Linked DNA regions of Homo sapiens. The protein of the gene in region 1 purifies or fractionates together with the protein of each later gene. This does not show direct contact. Each region holds a gene or a part of one and is shown in the gene's direction. Other genes may lie near its edges. The genes, in order: NPHP1, INVS, FLG, TNS1, CEP164, ZNF282 and ZNF746.

What was found.
Region 2: the proteins of NPHP1 (region 1) and INVS purify together in Homo sapiens (affinity purification with western blotting; one study listed by BioGRID). This does not show direct contact.
Region 3: the proteins of NPHP1 (region 1) and FLG purify together in Homo sapiens (affinity purification with mass spectrometry; one large-scale study listed by BioGRID and IntAct). This does not show direct contact.
Region 4: the proteins of NPHP1 (region 1) and TNS1 purify together in Homo sapiens (affinity purification with western blotting, with the first as the bait; one study listed by BioGRID). This does not show direct contact.
Region 5: the proteins of NPHP1 (region 1) and CEP164 purify together in Homo sapiens (affinity purification with western blotting, with the first as the bait; one study listed by BioGRID). This does not show direct contact.
Region 6: the proteins of NPHP1 (region 1) and ZNF282 purify together in Homo sapiens (affinity purification with mass spectrometry; one large-scale study listed by BioGRID and IntAct). This does not show direct contact.
Region 7: the proteins of NPHP1 (region 1) and ZNF746 purify together in Homo sapiens (affinity purification with mass spectrometry; one large-scale study listed by BioGRID and IntAct). This does not show direct contact.

The regions. Positions count from the first base shown.
Region 1 is NC_000002.12:110,170,508-110,174,123, reverse strand, and holds part of NPHP1 (nephrocystin-1), read left to right. Parts: intron 1-3,616. UniProt on the Homo sapiens protein: Together with BCAR1 it may play a role in the control of epithelial cell polarity. Involved in the organization of apical junctions in kidney cells together with NPHP4 and RPGRIP1L/NPHP8. Does not seem to be strictly required for ciliogenesis.
Region 2 is NC_000009.12:100,300,343-100,302,675, forward strand, and holds the end of INVS (inversin), read left to right. Parts: intron 1-225; coding exon 226-332; 3' UTR 333-1,833; downstream 1,834-2,333. Other genes in the region: TEX10 (testis-expressed protein 10), read right to left, coding at 1,849-1,962. UniProt on the Homo sapiens protein: Required for normal renal development and establishment of left-right axis. Probably acts as a molecular switch between different Wnt signaling pathways.
Region 3 is NC_000001.11:152,308,187-152,311,802, reverse strand, and holds part of FLG (filaggrin), read left to right. Parts: coding exon 1-3,616.
Region 4 is NC_000002.12:217,801,603-217,804,070, reverse strand, and holds part of TNS1 (tensin-1), read left to right. Parts: 3' UTR 1-2,468.
Region 5 is NC_000011.10:117,334,285-117,337,900, forward strand, and holds part of CEP164 (centrosomal protein of 164 kDa), read left to right. Parts: intron 1-349; exon of another isoform or gene 350-520; intron 521-1,320; 5' UTR 1,321-1,396; intron 1,397-3,616. UniProt on the Homo sapiens protein: Plays a role in microtubule organization and/or maintenance for the formation of primary cilia (PC), a microtubule-based structure that protrudes from the surface of epithelial cells. Plays a critical role in G2/M checkpoint and nuclear divisions.
Region 6 is NC_000007.14:149,209,024-149,212,639, forward strand, and holds part of ZNF282 (zinc finger protein 282), read left to right. Parts: intron 1-1,561; coding exon 1,562-1,681; intron 1,682-3,331; coding exon of another isoform or gene 3,332-3,334; coding exon 3,335-3,448; intron 3,449-3,616.
Region 7 is NC_000007.14:149,487,711-149,491,326, reverse strand, and holds part of ZNF746 (zinc finger protein 746), read left to right. Parts: intron 1-3,616.

The DNA.
Region 1 (3,616 bases):
GTTATAGAGAGAGTGAAAGTAAAGAACTGGAAAAAGGTATTCCATGTTCTACAACAAAGATATTATTTGTTTTATAACCAAAACAAAGGTGATACGGTTACAATAATATCAGATATTTAAGGCTAAAAGTAATTTACTATTTAAGAAAGGACATTTCATAATGATAAAAGAAAGGGTCGATTCAGTAGGAAAAAAAATCTTCCTAAATGAGTATACATTTAATAATATGGGTTCAAATGTATAAAGCAAAAGTTGCCAGAACTAAAACAGAGCTAGATAATTCACAATCCTTAACCACCGTGATCTAATTACATGTATAGTCAAGCCTTTCTTAGTGATAGGGATATGTTCTGAGAAATGAGTCATTAAGTGATTTCATCATTGTACAAACATCATAGAATGTACTTGCACAAACCTAGAAGGTGTAGGTTACCATACACTTGGGTTATATAGTTATAGTATAGCATGTTGCTCCTAGGCTACAAACCTGTACAGCATGTTACTGTGCTGAATACTGTACACAATTGTAACACAATGGTGTATTTGTGTATCTAAACATATCCAAAAATAGGAAATGTACAGTAAAAATATGGTATTATATGTATGGGGCCATCATTGTATATGTGGCCCATTGTTGACTGAAACATTGTTGTGCAGCACATGACTATATATGTGTAGAACACAGCACCTAAGTATGTATTATGTAAATACATATTCTTTTCAGTGCATCTGTAACATTAACCAAAATGAACCATATTGGACCATAAAGTAATTGTCACCAAATTTCAAGAGTTTGAAATTATGTAGAATATATATATATTTTCTTTGATGACTTGGAATGACATTAAAACCCAATGACAGAAAAATAATTAGAAATCACTGCATGTGGCCAGGTGCGGTGGCTCACGCCTGTGCTGAGGCGGGCGAATCACGAGGTCAAGAGATAGAGACCATCTGGCCAACATGGTGAAACCCCATCTCTACTAAAAATACAAAAATGAGCTGGGCATGGTGGTGCATGCCTGTAGTCCCAGCTACTCGGGAGTCGGAGGCAGGAGAATCGCTTGAACCCGGGAGGTGGAGATTGCAGTGAGCCAAGATCATACCACTGCACTCCAGCCTGGTGACAGAATGAGACACCGTCTCAAAAAAAAAAAAAAAGAAAAAGAAAAAGAAAAGAAATTACTACATGTTTGCAAATTGTCACACACTTCTATATAAACTGTGAGTCAAAGAAAATATAACAGTGGCAATTAGAAAATATTTGGAATGATAATAAAATGACTGGGTTGCAACCAGCATAGTGCTTAAAGGGAAAATTTCTATCTTTTGTTTGTTTGTTTTGGAGACAGGGTCTCCGTTACCCAGACTGGGTATAGTGGTGCAATCTTGGCTCACTGCAACGTCCACCTCCCAGGCTCTAGTGATCCTCTCCACCTCCGCCTCCCTGAGTAGCTGAGACTACAGGCGTGTGCCACTACGCTTGGCAAATTTTTTAAATTTTTTGTAGAGGCAGGGTCTCACTATATTGCTCAGGCTGGTCTTGAACTCATGGGCTTATGCAATCCTCCCACCTCAGCCTCCCAAAGTTCTGGGATTACAGGTGTGAGCCGCCACACCTGGCCAGAAATTTATATCTTTAAATGTATAGTTTGAAAAAAAAGTTGAAAATCAATTACTAAAACATCCAACTTTAGGGGCCAGAAAAAGGACAACAAACCCAAGGAGAGCAGGAAAGAAATAATAAAAATAAAAGCAGAAAACAGTGAACAATAAACAGACATACAGTAGGCAATATCAACAAAGCCAAACTGGTTTTTGGAAAATTAATTAAATGGATAAGCTGCTAGCATTACTGATCAAGAAAAGAGAGAGAGAAAAAAAATCAATACAGATTCCACAAGCATTAAAAAGATACTATGAAAAGACTATGAACAACTTGTGTGAATAAGTTTGAAATTTAGATAAAATTAGTTTCTTTAAAAAGAAAATGTACTAAAATTGACACAAGATGAACAGAAAATCTTAAAAGTTCTACTAAAATATTTACTAAAGAAGTTGAATCTGTAATTAAAAGCCTTTCCACAGATTAAACTCTCAGGTGGCTTTACTGGTGAATTTATTGTAAACATTTAAGAAAGAAATAGTGCCAATATTAAAAAATCATTCCAGAGAACAAAGAAGAAACACTTTCAAATCATTTTATAAGCTTTCAATAACACTGATATCAAAACATGACAAGAACACTAGAAGAAAATTGCAAGGCCCTCATGAACACATGCACAAACTCAGTATAAAATATTAGCAAGTAAAATCTAGAGGCATTTCAAAAGGGTAATACATCATGACCAAGTGGAATTTGTTCCAGAGTGTGAGGTTGGCTTAACATTAAAAAATCAATCATTGAAATTCACTACATTAATGAAGGGGAAAAACCGTTATCAAGTTCACATTATTTTCGGCAACATTTTAGAATAATTGACCCATATAAAATATGTGCAAAATATCTCCTAAAGAAGGAAAGAGACGCGTTGAAAATCAATATGACATTTTATGGATTTTTTAGTCTTGTGGTATAAAAATGGTTGTTACATCCCTGTTTATGTTTTAGATCATTGTGGTATAAGAGTGTCCTACCATTATTTTAAACAAAGTTCAGCTAATATTCCTTTTTATTCCAGAGAAAATCTTGTAGTTGACTAGTTTTATAGTTAATGATGTTCATTTGCATTAGTCTAAGTATTGTTTTCCCATTTTAAAGATAAGCTTCTCTCATGTAAGCTTTAGGAGGGCAAAGATCTTGGTTTTGTTCATTGTTATAGCCCAAGCACATAGTGTCTGTCACACAGTAGGTGCTCCCCAAAATTTAAACTTTGCTGAATGTTGAATGAGTAAATAAAATTCAGAAAGATTTAGTGACGTGCCCAAGCTAACATTATTTTGGCATTTCTCTCTTCCTCACCCTCAGATTCACCTCCTTTCTCTTCATCCCTATGCTGTTTTCTTAGTTCATAGTGTTGTCACTTCTCACTTTCAACAGCCACCCTCACCTTTAGCCTTTCTTCTAATCTGTTCCCCACATTATACCTTTGTCTCCTTTCTAAAGTGGGAATCATATCATGTCCTTCCCCTACTCATTTTTAGGGGCGACTTTAAAGGTAAAGCTCACCTGGGCTACATTCCGCGTACCTCTTTTCAGCCTCAACTCTCACTCATTTTCCTTAAGCCTTGCCCTACCATTCATGAGCTACTTGATGTTTCCTAATCTTAAATCTCCTTTCTCCTCTCCCTGCCCTTCCTTTCTACTCCCATTTTACCTGATTAATTCCATATCATCTCTCAAGACCTAATTATAGCCTTTTATGATTCCCATTCGTGCAACCTGGGTTAGGTGTCCCTCTTGTGTGATTGATTTCTTAGTATCCTGTGTATACCTCTACTCTAGTACCTATTGCACTATTTTATAATTCTCCATTTTCTAGATTGTCTCACTGCAAGCTCCTTGAGGATGGGGAATCATGTCTGGTTTACCTTTGTGTCCACTGTGTATCTCTCTGACACGGAACTTGACCTACAGCATCAGTGTCATCATCATAACTGACTTTTATGGAAAGCT
Region 2 (2,333 bases), on another chromosome or scaffold:
TGCCTGCTCTCTCTTAATCAAGTCTCCCTTGAAGAGATGTCCCATATCTTGAGACTGCAGGAAATATAAAGCTATTATATTAAGTCATCCTGCCTCTACAGTAAACTGGCCCATCATCCCAGGGATAGCCTAAACCGAAATCCTTCTTCCTCAACACCAATGAACTATTCCCTTCAGCCTTAAAATTAATAACCTTAATATCTATCTGGTATTTGTTTTTAACAGTGAGCAACCTACAGTGTATACATCTCCTTGAGAACAGTGGAAGATCAAAGAACTTTTCTTATAACCTGCAATCAGCTACTCAGCCAAAAAACAAAACAAAACCTTGACTGCCTATGGAGGAAGACTGTGTTCGGGGGAGCTGGCATAGCTAGTGCAGAGTTCAGATTTTCTGCTGATAATCTTTTACACCTTGGGAAAACTTTAATATCCGTACCTGAAGGCTGATTCACCTAAAAATGTGTTAACTGAAAGAAAATGTCAGAATGTTTCCTTTCTGCTCTTACACAGCATTGTTTTGTCAATCAACACAGCCTGCACTGAAAGGACCTGCATAGACTATGTCTGTGCAAAGTGCCTGAGTGTCTGCTTTCACCTCAGTCTGTACAGTTGGAAATGAGAATTCATAATTAACAGCAAAATCTAAGGAAAACTACGGCTGCTGGGTTGGGATTTCTGCCAGCTAGCTGGTACTGGCTTCTTGTTTCAAGAGATGAACCTAAATGAGATAGGAAGCCTGTCCCATAGCAGCCTTCCTCTCACTACTTTCCTGGCATCTAATGCAACAAACTTATCACACACACACACACACACACACACACACACACACACACATATCACGTCCCACTATTACTTCAAAATTAATCAGGTTTAAATTTTAGATCAGAATCATTGCCCACTGTTTTCATTTAGAAATTGTCCAAAAGACCATAGATACATTCTGGTGATTCCTTACATTTTACAGTTCCTACGTTAGCCTCTCAAGGCCACAAGTTGCCGCCACGTCTTCACTGAATGGCTTTCTCAGTGCTGAATACCAACAGCCGTATTACAGTATCAAGGATTCTGTCAGGTAGGGTTTACAGACCAGACTGTTCATGCAGCAAGGTGCTAACTCAGGCGTCAACGTTCTACTTGTATTTTCTGACCAACTTGCAGAAGTGAGCAATCTTCTTAAAATGCCATTTCTGTTGGCAGGGAAGAATGAAACGGCACACATCCTAGCATTCTAAGAACACCTGGTTTAAATAAAATCCAGTGATGATGGGCTCTTTCACATTGTTTAAGGGGAAAGCTGCTGTGAGAATATTGACAGTAGGCATAAACAGTGATATATTTTACTCACAGGTATTTTGGGGGTTGCTTTCATTTTCTTCAGATCAGTGCCACTTCTGTGCTAACGGTAAGAGATAGACAGATAGGCAATGAAGTGTTCACTTAATTACCTTGGTTTTTAGTTTACTAATTATTACATTCATCGTTTTTGTGATCACAAAAACACAAAGAAGGAGGTCTGCCTGGATGGAATTACAAAGATTTAGCCAGTTTCTTGGTATATAACAGAAGGTACCACAGTATCACTCTCTATTTTGTAAATATTTAGCTCCTATGAAATGCACAATGCACAACCGCCTATGACCATGTATCGTGTGCTAGTCCGGGAAGCCAGCCTACACATCAATAGGAACGCCCAAACATTATTTTCATATATCAGTGCAAAGAAAGAAGGTTCGTAAACTTCTTTAAAAGTTCAGCTTTAATGACAAAGATCTATTACATCAGTCTTTTTCTTCAAATAAGATAGATGTGAATAAACAACTTCAAACAGGAGGTACTATGGCCTCTTCAATACACTGTAGCCAGTGCACTGGGCCCTTGGGGATGCCCAGTGATATACACGTTGAAGCAGTAATGTAAGTCTGTGAGCCACTGTTCCTGAACACTTCCACTCTTCAATGTCTGGAGAGAAAAACAAGAGTAATCTGAGAACTGCACCCAAATCACTATGCTACCTGACAGTATTTTTCACACCCAAACACAATTTCCCAGAGCTTTGGCAACTGTATCCCCATCTGTAAATTACCATAGGAAGTCTTCCAGGAAACAGGGAACTATTAATTGGGCATTACCACAGGCAGTGAAAATTCCTAGTTATATCCTCAAATGCTAATGGTTTCTTGTTAAGTCTGTTCCCTCCTGCACATGCTAGAGACTAATGAAATTTCACCACCAACCATCCCTTCACCCTTGCCTCTCCCTCTTGCCATTCTAGTGTCTCATGATCTTTACCCCAGTGCCAACTGAGAATAACTCTACAGGGCCAACCAACA
Region 3 (3,616 bases), on another chromosome or scaffold:
TCCAGGAGAAAGACACGGATCCCGCCACCAGCAGTCAGCAGACAGCTCCAGACACTCAGGCATTCCGCGCAGACAAGCTTCATCTGCAGTCAGAGACAGTGGACACTGGGGGTCCAGTGGTAGTCAGGCCAGTGATAGTGAGGGACATTCAGAGGAGTCAGACACACAGTCAGTGTCAGGCCATGGACAGGATGGGCCCCATCAGCAGAGCCACCAAGAGTCCGCACGTGACTGGTCAGGGGGAAGGTCTGGACGTTCAGGGTCTTTCATCTACCAGGTGAGCACTCATGAACAGTCTGAGTCTGCCCATGGGCGGACCAGGACCAGCACTGGACGAAGACAAGGATCCCACCACGAGCAGGCACGAGACAGCTCCAGGCACTCAGCGTCCCAAGAGGGTCAGGACACCATTCGTGCACACCCGGGGTCAAGGAGAGGAGGAAGGCAGGGATCCCACCATGAGCAATCGGTAGATAGATCTGGACACTCAGGGTCCCATCACAGCCACACCACATCCCAGGGAAGGTCTGATGCCTCCCATGGGCAGTCAGGATCCAGAAGTGCAAGCAGACAAACTCGTAAGGACAAACAATCAGGAGACGGCTCCAGGCACTCAGGGTCACGTCACCATGAAGCTGCCTCTTGGGCTGACAGCTCTAGACACTCACAGGTGGGACAGGAACAATCATCGGGGTCCAGGACAAGCAGGCACCAGGGATCCAGTGTTAGCCAGGACAGTGACAGTGAGAGACACTCAGACGACTCCGAGAGGTTGTCTGGGTCTGCTTCCAGAAACCATCATGGATCTTCTCGGGAGCAGTCAAGAGATGGCTCCAGACACCCTGGGTTCCATCAAGAAGACAGAGCCAGTCACGGGCACTCTGCAGACAGCTCCAGACAATCAGGCACTCATCACACAGAGTCTTCCTCTCATGGACAGGCTGTGTCATCCCATGAACAGGCAAGATCAAGTCCAGGAGAAAGACATGGATCCCGCCACCAGCAGTCAGCAGACAGCTCCAGACACTCAGGCATTGGGCACAGACAAGCTTCATCTGCAGTCAGAGACAGTGGACACCGAGGGTCCAGTGGTAGTCAGGTCACTAACAGTGAGGGACATTCAGAAGACTCAGACACACAGTCAGTGTCAGCCCACGGACAAGCTGGGCCCCATCAGCAGAGCCACAAAGAGTCCGCACGTGGCCAGTCAGGGGAAAGCTCTGGACGTTCAAGGTCTTTCCTCTACCAGGTGAGCTCTCATGAACAGTCTGAGTCCACACACGGACAGACTGCACCCAGCACTGGAGGAAGACAAGGATCCCGCCATGAGCAGGCACGAAACAGCTCTAGGCACTCAGCATCCCAAGACGGTCAGGACACCATTCGTGGACACCCGGGGTCAAGCAGAGGAGGAAGGCAGGGATCCTACCACGAGCAATCAGTAGATAGGTCTGGACACTCAGGGTACCATCACAGCCACACCACACCCCAGGGAAGGTCTGATGCCTCCCATGGGCAGTCAGGACCCAGAAGTGCAAGCAGGCAAACAAGAAATGAGGAACAATCAGGAGACGGCTCCAGGCACTCAGGGTCACGTCACCATGAACCTTCCACTCGGGCCGGCAGCTCTAGACACTCACAGGTGGGCCAGGGAGAATCAGCGGGGTCCAAGACAAGCAGGCGCCAGGGATCCAGTGTTAGTCAGGACAGGGACAGTGAGGGACACTCAGAAGACTCTGAGAGGCGGTCTGAGTCGGCTTCCAGAAACCATTATGGATCTGCTCGGGAGCAGTCAAGACATGGCTCCAGGAACCCCAGGTCCCATCAAGAAGATAGAGCCAGTCATGGGCACTCTGCAGAGAGCTCCAGACAATCAGGCACTCGTCATGCAGAGACTTCCTCTGGTGGACAGGCTGCATCATCCCAGGAACAGGCAAGGTCAAGTCCAGGAGAAAGACATGGATCCCGCCACCAGCAGTCAGCAGACAGCTCCACAGACTCAGGCACTGGGCGCAGACAAGATTCATCTGTAGTCGGAGACAGTGGAAACCGAGGGTCCAGTGGTAGCCAGGCCAGTGACAGCGAGGGACACTCAGAAGAGTCAGACACACAGTCAGTGTCAGCCCACGGACAGGCTGGGCCCCATCAGCAGAGCCACCAAGAGTCCACACGTGGCCAGTCAGGGGAAAGGTCTGGACGTTCAGGGTCTTTCCTCTACCAGGTGAGCACTCATGAACAGTCTGAGTCCGCCCATGGACGCACAGGGCCCAGCACTGGAGGAAGACAAAGATCCCGCCACGAGCAGGCACGAGACAGCTCCAGGCACTCAGCGTCCCAAGAGGGTCAGGACACCATTCGTGGACACCCAGGGTCAAGCAGAGGAGGAAGGCAGGGATCCCACTATGAGCAATCGGTAGATAGTTCTGGACACTCAGGGTCTCATCACAGCCACACCACGTCCCAGGAAAGGTCTGATGTCTCCCGTGGGCAGTCAGGATCCAGAAGTGTCAGCAGACAAACACGTAATGAGAAACAATCAGGAGACGGCTCCAGGCACTCAGGGTCGCGTCACCATGAAGCTTCCTCTCGGGCCGACAGCTCTAGACACTCGCAGGTGGGCCAGGGACAATCATCAGGGCCCAGGACAAGCAGGAACCAGGGATCCAGTGTTAGCCAGGACAGTGACAGTCAGGGACACTCAGAAGACTCTGAGAGGTGGTCTGGGTCTGCTTCCAGAAACCATCTTGGATCTGCTTGGGAGCAGTCAAGAGATGGCTCCAGACACCCTGGGTCCCATCACGAAGACAGAGCCGGTCACGGGCACTCTGCAGACAGCTCCAGACAATCAGGCACTCGTCACACAGAGTCTTCCTCTCGTGGACAGGCTGCGTCATCCCATGAACAGGCAAGATCAAGTGCAGGAGAAAGACATGGATCCCACCACCAGCTCCAGTCAGCAGACAGCTCCAGACACTCAGGCATTGGGCATGGACAAGCTTCATCTGCAGTCAGAGACAGTGGACACCGAGGGTACAGTGGTAGTCAGGCCAGTGACAGTGAGGGACATTCAGAAGACTCAGACACACAGTCAGTGTCAGCACAGGGAAAAGCTGGGCCCCATCAGCAGAGCCACAAAGAGTCCGCACGTGGCCAGTCAGGGGAAAGCTCTGGACGTTCAGGGTCTTTCCTCTACCAGGTGAGCACTCATGAACAGTCTGAGTCCACCCATGGACAGTCTGCGCCCAGCACTGGAGGAAGACAAGGATCCCATTATGATCAGGCACAAGACAGCTCCAGGCACTCAGCATCCCAAGAGGGTCAGGACACCATTCGTGGACACCCGGGGCCAAGCAGAGGAGGAAGACAGGGGTCCCACCAAGAGCAATCGGTAGATAGGTCTGGACACTCAGGGTCTCATCACAGCCACACCACATCCCAGGGAAGGTCTGATGCCTCCCGTGGGCAGTCAGGATCCAGAAGTGCAAGCAGAAAAACATATGACAAGGAACAATCAGGAGATGGCTCTAGGCACTCAGGGTCGCATCATCATGAAGCTTCCTCTTGGGCCGACAGCTCTAGACACTCACTGGTGGGCCAGGGACAATCATCAGGGCCC
Region 4 (2,468 bases), about 110 Mb from region 1:
CCTAACTCAACTGCTTTGCAAGGGGAAATCAAGCTGGGAGAATCTTTTTCTGGCCACCTGTGGGGTAGGTTGTCAAACCAAACAGAGCCACCGTGGGACATCAAGTGGAAGAACTTGTTTGCTTGAAAGTATCTCAGACCCAAGGCACCTCAGGTCTCTTTGCTGTGCCTCCACTATATTGTCGTGTGGGTGTGTGTCTGCACCCACATCCTCACACATTGATCTAGATCTGCCTTTATCCACTCGAATTATAAACAGCTCGGCTTGTCCTTGTCCCATGTGTTTGTAGACACACATGCATACTGTCCAAAGATTAGGGTTGGTGGTGGCAGTGCAGCAGGGGAGGGACAAACAACCAAGCTATGGGTGACAGAGGCTCTCTCCTGGTGCCTGCACCTGCACTCTAGTGACCCTGGGTGCCGCCAGACCCTTCTCTTCTACAAAGACCCCAGCAGGAGTGGGAGGGTCTGCAATGGCATCGCCCTGTCCTGCCTTGGCCAGAAGCCTGGAGCTTTGGTTTGAGGAGGTAGAGATATGTGTATCCATAGGAAGAGATCTGTCAGAACAGGCAGCTGTTGAGCTCGGGGTGTCTTCCCCAAGGCATGTGGCTCAGCAGCAAGAAAGGCAAGTTGCTCCTGCTGGGGCCCTGGACTCTGCCTTAGCTCCCACCTCTCAGCCTTGTTATTGGGTTTCATGCCCCTGGACCAGCCTTATCTCAGACCTGCTTACCTGCATGATGCCTTTTTGGGGGCTGGGGATTGAGTCTTGCTGCTCTGCCCAGCCCTGTTCTATTCTGCAGGGTCCCTGTGTTGGAATTCTCCCTGGGGAACCTACTTTCTGCTCAGTGAGGCTCCGGCCAGAAACCTGGAGTCCTTATCCTCCCCTCTGTAAGTGTTTTAGGGTCTGGCTTTTGCAGGCACCCTCTGACCTCAGCAGAGCTCCTGGGCCTGCTGCCTGCACACCACATCGCCTACCTACAATGCCAAAGCCTCACTGTCACCCTTTCTGCCTTGGTTTCCCTAGCTGAGCCACGCTGCCCATGCAGCAGAGGGCAGAAGGCTTGCACTTGGGCCAAAGGGCCTAAGGTCCACTGGACAGTTGGGAAAACACCTGACCACCATTTAAGGACTCTAAGCCAGAATGGAAAATTCACCAGGACTCCATTCTTAAGCCTATGCGAGTCCCCTAGAGAGAGGCATTGTACTGATATATAAATATTATATAATATATACATGAGACATACTGACAGAATCTGTAAGCTAATAAAATGTAAGAAAAGGTTAAAAAAAGAATAGGTAAATTGACAAGAAGTATTTATTGTTTTTCCATATTGCTTTATTGCCTTCCTTGGGGATAAACCAATTCCTATCCTTTTTTATATGTGTAAGTAAAGCCTGAAGTGTAGGGGGCCTTTGTTCTTGAAGCAGCCAGGGTCTCCTTGCCCTGGCCTTGGCCTTCCCTAGACTGTGTGGGGCTCAGCATTGGGAGGGGTTGCACATGTCCCAGCCTTTGGCCCCCTTACTTTTCAGCAAGCCAGGGGCCCAGCAGTCAGCTCCCAGGATGTGTGGGGAGCTGTCCCTGACTCTGCAGGCCTGAGCGAGTGTGTGAGCATGCGGGGACATGGGTGTGTATGGCACACATAGGTGCGTGTGTGTCTTTTGTATTTTTTCTCCTCCAAGGAGCTGTGTCAGTGTGGACGTTCTGTTTCAGGGAGTTGGAAAGGAGGGTGTCTGCAGAAGGTGGAGAGCAGGGGCAGAGGCCCCACTGGCCACCCCCTGCTTCCCAGAGTGAAACCTTGTGCCTGGTGACCAAAGTCCCTCCAAAGTGCTCTTCCTTCTGGGTTATTCAAGCCAAATATCTGGGTTTCCCCCTCTCCTCATTCCCTAGCAAACCCCAATTATCTTCCAAGATAGGAGATATTTCCCATCCCCTTCCTTTGTAAATATCTCATCTCCCACTGGAGAGCCCAGGAGCCTATTCCTGGCATGGATGTTCTGTCCACACTTGAGGCTGGGCGGTGTATCAGACCCTTCAAGCAGCCTGGCTGGGGCCCAGGACTGAGTCTGGGGTCAGCTTTCACGGTCGCTTTTCCCTTCCTCACCACCCACCACAGCCCACCTTGCATGCATGGCCAGCCCCTCCACTCCAGCCTGAGCCATGTGTGCCCCTGCGGGAGGACCCATTCATGCCAGAAAGCTGGTAACTCCCTCCCAGCATCCCTGCGGAAGGAGTCAGTTTCTGAGAGTGTGACTTTTCAAGGCGAATGATGGGGAAGGGTTCCCCAGTCCCCACAGTGGCCCCACCTCTGGGCCCTGCACCAGAGCCCTTCTGTGTCACGGCGGGCTGTGCACCCATGCACACACCTACGCACACACAACACTCCGCACTGCAGTATATTCTTGCCAAAGATTTCCTTTAAAAGCAAGCACTTTTACTAATTATTATTTTGTAAATGTTTATCTTCTTCT
Region 5 (3,616 bases), on another chromosome or scaffold:
ATGACTTCTGTTCCCACGTTCCTTTTTTCTTTAACTCATTGGCCTTTTGGACCTGTCCTTGCCCACATCTTTTCTAGAGCCTGATAAGGTAAGGAAAGAAGGTAGAATACAACCCACCCATATTTTAATTTTTTTCTGGCAGAACATTTATTTGAATTTGGATGATCCATGAATTCAGATTTCCCAGAGTTTTCCTGATCTTTAAGTAGTTAAATATATCGCCAGGTGCGGTGGCTCCTGCCTGTAATTCCAGCACTTTGGGAGGCCAGGGCCGGTGGATCACCTGAGATCAGGAGTTTGAGACCAGCCTGGCCAATGTGGTGAAATCTAATCTCTACTAAAAATCCAGAGATTAGCCAGGCATGGTGGGGGTGCCTGTAATCCCAGCTACTCGGGCAGCTGAGGCAAGAGACTAGCTTGAACCTGGGAGACAGAGGTTGCAGTGAACCAAGATCGTGCCACTGCACTCCAGCCTGGGTGACAGACTGAGACTTCGTTTCAAAAAAAAAAAAAAAAAAAGGTAAATATAGATCATTATGTATATAGCAAATTAGTCTTGTTGCCATGTGGACAGAGACTACCTGTCCTGTGCTTGCTGGAGATGGGATGCATCTAGGGGATGACATTTCTCAAATGCAGAATTTCTCAAATTCTCTGAGGTAGTTAAGATAGTACCTCGTATAGAGCACATGCTTGGGAAGTGCTTATTCACCCTAATGTTCAGGCCACCATTGGGCCCTCCCTGCCCGTGGATCCTTTCCTTTTTTCTTCTCCTCTCCCTAAGAGGATTAAAGATTCAGGTGACTCTGTAAGCCACCAGGCAGTGGGCCCCATCTGCCACCCGGGTTCCTGGTCCTTTTCTGCTCAGCTTTTTAGTCAGCAGTGGTCAGGCCTGCGTCGCCTCTGACTGTGTGTGTAGCACAGTGGGGCATCATGTCTGCAGGATGTTACGGGTTCTTCTGAGGGTTGGGAGCACATTCCCACTTCAGCTTATGTACTGTTGAAAGAAGCCCTTTTCCTTTGGTGTTTTCTTCCTGCTTGGAGGTGGCATGGTGGGAATGAGGGGCAGAAGCTGGCTCCCTTCAGGTTCAGTGCACTGACAAAGGGAACCATGTCTTGTGAGTCCTAAGGCAGGACTCCTCTGTTGCCCACCCGTTAGCTGTCATGGTACAGAGGGGGGCCATAGTAAACAATCCCTGATGGATCCTTTGTTGCTTGTCAGGGGTCTCTAGGAACCTTGGAATAGGTTCAGAGTCTCCAGATCCAGCCATTTCCTTTCTAGGCCAGATCTTGACTTTTTTTTTTTTTTTTTTCAACCAGGAGAAATAACTTTATTTGGACTGAGAGCTGGAGAATGAGAATAGGACCTGAGAGTATATTGGGCTAAGGAGGAGAGGTAAGGTTCCAAAACGGCGGTCAAAGCTCATCGACTAAACGGACTCTACTTCCCACCAAACTTGCAGTTAGTGCAACCAACAAAAGGCCTGCTGGGGAATGTATTTGCCACTAAATTCCCCAAGTATGCCAACATTACAAAAAAGATAGAGGTTTCTAATCATAATTAAATTTCCACAAACCTCCCCAATCACAAGTATTATAAGCAGAAGTAAAAAAAAATCACATTTTACAGATCTCAAACTTGTCTTCAATATTTAGTTCATCATCTTCAAAAAAATAGCTCCCCTGCTAAACTCATTAGCTATCTGATCTATCCAAGCAGCAAGAAGATGGCCAGGCCATGGCAATCCTCTTCCCATTTTCCCTATCCATTCAGGGCTCAACAGCAGGGTGAGGCTCAGGTTGGGGGTGGGGTGGGGGGAGCACAAGGGCTACTTTCCCCCAGTACAACATGGCTTCTGAAGCTTGATGGGAGAGCAGAACTGGTGAGACTTGAGGGAAGGGTCCAGGGCCTGTATTCAGTCAGAATCGCTGCTGGAAGAGGAGGAGAAAGAGGAGGAGGAATGCTTGCCATGCTTTTGGTGCTTGTGCATCTTTTTATGAGCTTTCTTCATTTTATTCTGCATCTTCTTGTCCGCTGTCACTGCTGGTCTGACCATGCCAGGAGCCAAGAGATTCACAGGAGGGATTCCAGGGGCAGGCGGTGGGTATGGAGGAAGGTGGGGACCCGAGGATTGGCATCCTGGATACCCTGGCTGTGGTACAGGATGAGGGGCCCCACCTGGGAGGAAAGCTGGATTGCCCTGGGGAACTCCTAGGGGAGGAGGACAGGGGCCTGGGGGAAAGGGTGGATTGATAGGTGGTGGGTGGGCAGGATTGGAACCTCCAGGGCACCCAGTGTTGGGGGATATGGATTTGGCCCTGGCTGTCTGGCATTGGGATTCCACATGTTTAGGTGTGTCCTCCAGCCTTTCCACGGCTGCCTGGGCTTGATGCGTTCTACCAGATCCTGATGTTTTTAATGGCTGGGCCTTTCTGCTTGAAGAGGGCCGTTTCATCCTTGCTGCTCCAGGAGGAACAGTGGCAGCTTCTGAGGAAGTGGGGACTGGAGAGGTCAGGACTTGTGGCTCCAGACTCCTGTTGGTCACATTTGGTGTGGCCAACTGCTCTGCAGGTTGGGGAGGTGCTCTGAGCAGGTCTGTGTGTGGCAGCAGTTTCCCAGGCGACTTCCTTCATCAGGCTGCAGCATGGGAGCTGCCATGGGGAGAGTTGGTGGGAACTGGGGTCCTGAGGTAGGGGTGGGAAGAGAGGAGCAATTCTAGAAGTGCACCAGCTTCTCAGTTGAAGAATTTGGCACCGCCCCATCCCTGGAGCTAGAAACCTTGGATTCAAGCTGGACTTCTGTCTTCGCTTGGGCTGCCGTAACACAATACCGTAGACTGGGGGGCTCCAACAACAGAAATCTCTTTTCTCATAGTTCTGGAAGCTAGAAGGCCCATATCAAAGTCTGTTGCTGGTTCCTGTCTTGCAGACAGCTGCCTTCTTGCTGTGTCCTCAGATGGTAGAGAGAGACCTCTAAGCCACTAGACAGTGGGCCCCATCTGCTGCCCTGGTTCCTGGTCCTTTCTTCCTCTCCTTTTAATCCTATCAGGCCATTTAACCTTAATGACCTCATTTAACTTTAATTACCTCCTAAAGAACCAGTCACATTGTGGATTAGGGCTTCAATATGTGTATTTTTCTTACTTTGAGAGGCTGAGGCGGGAGCATTGCTTGCACCCAGGAGTTCAAGACCAGCCAGGGCAACATAGTGAGACACCATCTCTGTAAAAAAAAAAAAAAGTAAAATATATACATATGTGAATTTTGAAGGGATGTAGCTCCTTTCCACTTTTCCCCCATATCCTGGTCCTATTAAGCTTAACATCACTGGGTCTGTTCTGACTGTCTCTTCTTCATTCCCCTGCTTCTGCCCTAGTTAAAGTCCTTATCATCTCGCCCCTGGGCAGCAGCCTCCTCAGGTGGTTTTCCTGACACCAGTCTCTCATTTCTCCAATCCAGCCATGCCAGTCTTGCCAGAATTCTTGTCCTAAAAAAAGGCCACCCTGTGATACTTTGTTTCACCAGAGCCCTCAGTGACTCCCCTCTGGTGTAGGACAGGGTGGAGGCTCTTTAGCACGGTCTGCAAGGCTCACTGTGACCAGCCGGTCACACATGT
Region 6 (3,616 bases), on another chromosome or scaffold:
AAAAAAAAAAGAGGGCCGGGCGCGGTGGCTCACGCCTGTAATCCCAGCACTTTGAAAGGCCGAGGAGGGCGAATCATGAGGTCAGGAGATCGAGAGCATCCTGGCTAACACGGTGAAACCGTGTCTCTACTAAAAACACAAAAAATTAGCCGGGCGTGGTGGCGGGCGCCTGTAGTCAGTCCCAGCTACTCGGGAGGCTGAGGCAGGAGGATGGCGTGAACCCGGGAGGCGGAGCTTGCAGTGAGCCGAGATTGTGCCACTGCACTCCAGCCTGGGAGACAGATTCCGTCTCAAAAAAAAAAAAGAAACCCCACACCCACAAGCAGTCCTTCCCTGCTCTCTTTTACCACCCCCCGCCCCTGGGAACCACTAATCGACTGTCCATATCTATGAATTTGCCTGTCCTGGGCATTTCCTCTAAATGGCTCCTTCCCTGTCTTCATCAAGGACTGCAGAAGTTTAAGGTCAGCAGCGGTAGTAACAGCACCTAGTCTTATGGGGTAGATTTTTACATTTGAAGCACTGTAATCTCAACAGTTTCAGTTGGTTATCAAACCATCACTGAGCATGAGATAGAACAGGGATCACTGTGTCCTTTTTGTAGATGAAAAGGGTAGACCGGAACCCAGAGAGGCTAAATGACTCATCCACTGAGTTGGTGCGGAGTTGAAGGCAGGATCCCAGTCTTCAGATTCTTTGTCTTCTCTCTTTCCTGGTGCCTGAGCCTCCTCTTGCAGCAGGGGGCGCCATCAGAAGAAAAGGCCCTGTTTGTTGCATGCTGGGCTTCTGTGTAGAGGCTATGTCCTTGTCTTTTATGCACAGTGAGTCCTCACTTAATGTCATTGATAGGGTCTCGGAAACTGTGGCTTTAAAGTGACATATAACACAACCAATTTTTCTTTCTCATCAATGTTATAACTAAACATCATAGAAGGAAATGATGTTATTTGAGGATCTGCTATGTGTCATTTCACTTGAACTCACTGTTTCCAAGAACCTGCTGACGACAGTGAGACTGGCTGTATAAGGAGGTTCTGCACTATCTGTCCAACAATAGAGCTTAGTTGTGCCTTTTTGCCCATCCCCGCTTCTCACAAATCATATATATACACGTGTGTGTGCATCTGGCCTCAACCTGGCCAGCTCTTTCTGACTGGGGTGACTAACAAGGACTAATGACTCCCACAGAGAGGTCCAACTTGTGGCCCAGTCCTGATTAGGACCCAGCCAGTTACACAGCTCTAGGTTGTTTCTGAATTCTCTCTTCAGTGTCATCACCCCTCATTTTGCTGCTTGCCTAGCCCTTTTTCTTGAATGTTGGCTTCCTCTCTGCTCCTGAGACCTTCTGCTCCTCAGGGTCCCCCATGGTTCCAATAGGAACCCGAGACCCCTGTCTTCTCCCCTGGCAAGTGCTGTCAGCCATGCTTCTGAGCCCAGAATGTCCTGGTGACCAGCATGCAGAAAAAAAGACACAAAGCAATGTCATTCTCTGTTCCCAGGAGCAGAGCTCCTGGTGCCTGCAGAAAAAAAGACACAAAGCAATGTCATTCTCTGTCCCCAGGAGCAGAGCCCCTGGTGCCTGCGCAGGATGCGTCCTCCCAGGTGAAGCGTGAGGACACCCTGTGTGTCCGGGGTCAGCGGGGCCTGGAGGAAAGAGCCATCCCTACGGAATCCATTACCGGTGAGTGAGCCAAGCAGCCGTCCACACCAGGGAGGGGAGGGGAGGGGAGAGGGTTAGCATGGTCTGCCAGCCCCCAGAGTTAGCTGTCACATGTGCCAGGCCAGAGGGCTGAGCTCGAAATGGAAGGGCTGTGCATCCAGGGCTGGGCTGAGCCAGGATTCCTCCAGGAGACACAGACGTGGCAAACAGCATTGACAATTTGCTGGTACACCTGGGCTCAGCGTGTTCTGTTTCCTCTCTTCCTCATATTATCCGTTTGTAACTATTCCATCTTCCCCTTTAGAAACAATATCCTGGCAGAAGTACTAAGTGTAAGGCTTCATGGGTGGGGGAACAGGGAGGTCAGGAAGACCTGTTGTGCCCTGACCAGGAAGGCCTTTCATTGTTTTAAACAAGTATTTATGGGCTGCTACCTCTGTGCCAGGCACCTACATACCTGCGGTCCTGTGAGGGACCTCCTCTTAGCTGGCATTGCAGCTGGACTCTGTCGTAGGTGAGAGCTCTGTTATAGCAGATGTATGTATCAATCAGAGTTCTCCAGAGAAACAGGACCTGTAAGGGTGTGTGTGGAAAAGAGAGATTTATTTTATTTTAAGGAATTGGCTTGTGATTGTGGAGGCCGGCAAGTCCAAAATTTACAGGGCAGGCCAGCAGGTTAGAGCCCCAGGGAATTGCTGATGTGGCTGCTGGAGCCTGCAGGCAGAATTCCCTTTTCCTTGGGGGAGGCCAGTCTTTTCCCTTAGGCCTTCAGCTGGTTGATGAGGCCCGCCCACATCATAGAGGGCAATCTGCTTGACTCAAGTCTACTGACTTACATGTTCAAATCTCATCTAAAAATATACCTTCATAGAAACAGCTAAATAATGTTTGACCAAATATCTGGGTACCGTGGCCGAGCCAAGTTGACACATAAAATCAACAATCATGAGACATATTAACATACTGTAGCCCTTTACTTATCCACAGGTTAGAGCTCCACAAACCTCATCCCCCCCTTAGTCAGAGCCTCACACCCATAGGTAAGTGCTCATAGTGTCTGGGTAGAGGAAAGCCCGTTCACTTGTCATCAGGCATGACCCTTGAAAGCATCACAGTATTAGGATCTTTAAGGAGATCTTTAAGAGATAAGAAGGCAATAAGGTGTAAATTAGGTTTCAGAGACTCTGTAGAAGAAAGAGAGTATAGGGTCTTTTTCTTACATCTTAGAAAAATCCCATTCAAAAGATTTAAAGGCTTCTTGTAACATTACTTTATACCCCATAAATATATACAACTATAATTTGTCAATATATAATTTAAAAAAAGAGGCTTTCTGGAAGTTTTCATCTTTCCAGAGGAAATACCTCTTTCTGTGGTGGTCTCAGCACCAGAATGGGAACCTCATTCTAAGGAGATTTAAGTTCCTGCAGCACAGAAAGGCTCTTTCTTAAAGACTGTAATGTTACTCCCCTGCAGCATCCTCTTATTTGCAGCAAAAGCTCCGTTAATTGGGGCCAAGCTGACTTCAACCTTTAGTTAATGAGACTTATGTAATTGTACCTGATGTTTAGGGGAAAGAGATAATTGCATGAAATCAGAGATTTACTCAAAACACAAACTTGCAGGAGATTTCGCATCTTCTAACACCTTTGCCGCTCTTGTTCCCGCAAGTAGACTCCCCAATTTCTGCCCAGGACCTCTTGTCCCGGATTAAACAGGAGGAGCATCAGTGCGTGTGGGATCAGCAGGATTTGGCAGACAGAGATATTCCCACGGATCCCAATTCAGGTGAGAACAAGGTCAGAATGAATCTTGAGGGCAACAAGTGTTTTTCAAAAGGAATCATTAAATTAATAATTTATTGTGTTTATGCAGCTGATACTAAAATTACTTCAGCACTGATTTTTTGTTCTTTGAGACGGAGTCTTGCTCTGTTGTTCAGGCTGGAGTGCAGTG
Region 7 (3,616 bases), on another chromosome or scaffold:
AAATACGCTGGTTGCTGGTAAGACCCTGTAACACTCTCTAGCTGCACCGTATGATGTTCAGCAGCATCCGTGGCCTCTACCCACCAGTAGACAAGATGAGTAGACACAAACTCCACTGTCCATCCTGAGCCTGTTGGCAGGGATCTGTGTGGCGTTTATCCCTGTCCCCTTTGTCTGAGAAGCCAGGACTCCCAGCTCATCCCTTGCCACATTTGGCCTGACCCATCCCCTTGTGAGACCTCACCTCCCCTTCTCCTCACCTCCTGCACATCCCTCCACTGAGCCTTGTGGGACTCAGGGCTCAGCAGACCCGCCAGGTCCTGAGTGTTCCCTGCTCGGACTGAGCTCCAGGGGACTGCAGCCCTCTGAGTGCTTGTCATCCTCTTCCCTGCCTCTGTCTTGAGCCCAGGCCCACTGGGACAGGGTCCTCACCCCTCAGATTGTGCCTCTGCCAGCCTCAATCCCTCTCTAGAGACCTTGCCTTTGGGTCCCAGGCCTTGTCTTTTTGCTACTTCTGCAGACCTTCCCTCTCTTCTCAACACTCTTCCTGCCCTCAGTCTTGGCCATGGCAGCCTCCTTGTTGATTGTCCTGTGCCCCCCCAACCCATCCCACAGCCATCCGTGACTGTGACGACAGTGACTTTACCATACCCACCATCTCCATCTCCAGCACACCACTCCCTGGCCGCCTCCTGCCGTCCCTTCAATTCCGTCTGGTGTCCTGATTCCAGCAGTTTTCCAGTCCTTCAAGACCTGCAAGCCATCGACCCTGCTGCCTTTTCACTGCCCTGACTCATCCTCATTTCCCTCCATGCCCACCATTGTGGTCCCCCCTTACACACACCCTCAGCACTCTTGCCCCTGTTTTGTTCATTGTATCCACTTAGTGAAATCCATCGGTGTTCTGCACCTGCAGCCAAGCAGCTGCACGTGGCTGCAGAGAACCAGGTAAGCTGGCTGCTGGTGTCACGTGACATTCATGACCAGCGACTTCAGTGGGCGCTCTGCCACACAGTCACACCGTGTCTCCTTAGCCCAGGGGCCAGCAAACTGTGGCTGAGGGCCAAACCTAGCTCATCTGTTTCTGTATGGTGCACAGCTGAGAACAGTTTTATATTTTAACCCGTTTTTTAAAAGAGAAACGCACCACTCACACAGCCCTCTCCACGCCATCTGCCTGCACCAGTGCCCCCTTCTCTGCCTTCACTTCTGTGACTGCTAAACTGTCAACCCTCCAGCCAAAGCCCCACTTCGATCTGGCACCAGATCCCACCTCATGCCATCTTCTCAAGGGCAATACAAGCAATCCTGCCTTGACCTCTACCCCGGCAGCCACTGCCCGCTTGTCTGTTCCCCTTTGTGGCAGAGCCCTTGGGGACATCTGCGCTTGCTGTCTCCTGCACCTTCCCCCCCACTCTGTTACCCCTTCCACCAAAACCTCTCCAACCTCGGTTACCAGGGCCCTCCGTGGTCCTGAATGGTCTGTCTTCTTACTTGGCCTTGTCCCCTCTACTCTGCCACGTAGGCCCGTCATCTCCTGCCAGCCCCTCTCCTCCTGCCCTGATCCCCCAGTCTTGCCTCAGCCCAGCAGAGTAATCCCTTTTAGACCCAAGTCCTGGCTTTCCATCTGACCCGCACCGTCAGCTCACCACCTCCACTTTTCTCTCACTCTGCCCAGCTGCAGAGTGCTGTTCCCTGGTGCTGTTCCCTCCGCCCTGTGCCAGGGCCTTCGCAGTGCCCTCTACTGGGAATCCTCCTCAGGCAGGTCCCACCTGCAGGCCTTTCGTGTCATCGGCACTGCAGGCCCTCCCCACCCAGGACTCCAGGCCTACTTTCCTGCTTTGGGTCTTCCGTGTTAGACAGTGTCACATAATATATATGTTTCCTATTTATAGATTCATCGTATGTCAGGTCTCCTCCATTAGAATGTCAATTTCAAAAGTATAAAAATTTTTACCTGTTTAATCATTTTAGGAACCTAGAGTATTGCCTAGTACAGAGTAGGAATTCAATAACTATTTGCTGAATGTATGCTGTTTCAAAATTTAAAACGTGTGTGTGTGTGTGTGTGTGTGTGTGTGTGTGTGTGTGTGAAATAATGTATTTCTGATAGCATTTAAATTCCTTTTTAGGTCTCCCAGGCCTCCCTAGGAATTTTCTGTTTATTCTTTCTATCCACATTTTAAAACGTCTGCTGTGTACTTTGGTAGCTGTAAACAATATATAATACGGTTTTTTGTGTTCTGAAAAATTACATAGATGTCATTATATTTATCACTCATTATTCTGTATTTCAGACTTATCCATGTTGATACATGTAGATCAAGTTCATTCCTTTTAACAGATGCTTAATATTCCAGAAGCAACTATATTGTAACTTATTTTCCATTCCTCCACTGATTGGCACTTAAGCTTTTTCTGATTGTTCACTCTCACAAGCAATACTGTAGTGAGCGTTCTTGCGCCTGTTTTTTTGTGGCCCTGTGGGGATGCTGCTCCAGGGAGTAGACCCAGCGGTGGCCTCACCACGTCGTAGGCTTGATTTCATCTCTTCCGTTACTGTATGGCCCTCCCCAGGGGTACCCAGTGCCAGCGGGTGCTCCTAGAACTTGCTTCCTAACGTCTGCCCAGTTTCCATAATTACATTTTTGCCGACCTGATGGGGGTGAGATGGCCTCTCGTTTCAACTTGTATTTTCCCCCTTAAGTTGCACGCCCTTTTTATACGATTATTTGGCTGCTTCTCCAGTGAGTTGTCTTCTGTTTTTCTATTGAGATATTCTTCATTTTCTTCTTGATTCAGGGCTTCTTTGTATGTGTTCTAGATACAAATCCTTTGTCTATTATTTGTGTTACAAACATTTTCTCCGTGTCGGTGGCAGGTCTTTAACGTTGTAGTTCTTGTATGGAAGTTTTCACTGTTGAAAGAGTCAAACATGTCAGTCTTTTCCTTTATGATCTGTGCTTTTTCTGTAGTGAGATATCCTTGCTTACCTCACTCAAGGTCAGAAAGATACTCTTCTCTATTTTTTTTATAAATTTTTAAAAGTTTTGCTTTTCAAATTTAAGTCTTTAATTTATCTAGAATTAAAATTTGTGTAGCTTGCAAGGGAGGGTTTCAGTTTTTTCTCCCACAACGATGGTCTCATTTTCCAACAAAGTTTGCTGAATGTGTTAGCTTTTCTCCACTGATTTGTGATGCGATTCTGTCCTGAGCTGGTTTCTGCATGTGCACAAGTCTGTTTCTGGGTGCTTGCTTCTGTGTCATTGGTCTCTTTGTCAGTCTCTGCACCAACAGCTTGCTCTTTTAGCTTCATAATAAGCCTTGATATCTAGTAGACTAATCCTTCTCTGCTTGTTCTTCAAAAAACTGTCTTGGCTATTCTTGGATATTTGTTCTTTTATATGAATTTTGGGATCTGTATGTCAAGTTCCTAAGAAAATCCTGTTGGAAATTTGATTGGAATTGCATTGACTTTACAGTCTAATTTCTGGAGAATTGCTCTCATGACAACATTAGCCTTTCTACTCATTGGAACACTCATTTATTGAAGGCTTCTATGTGCTTGAATAAGATTTTACAGTTTTCTTCTGATAGTTGTTTTTCATTATAAATG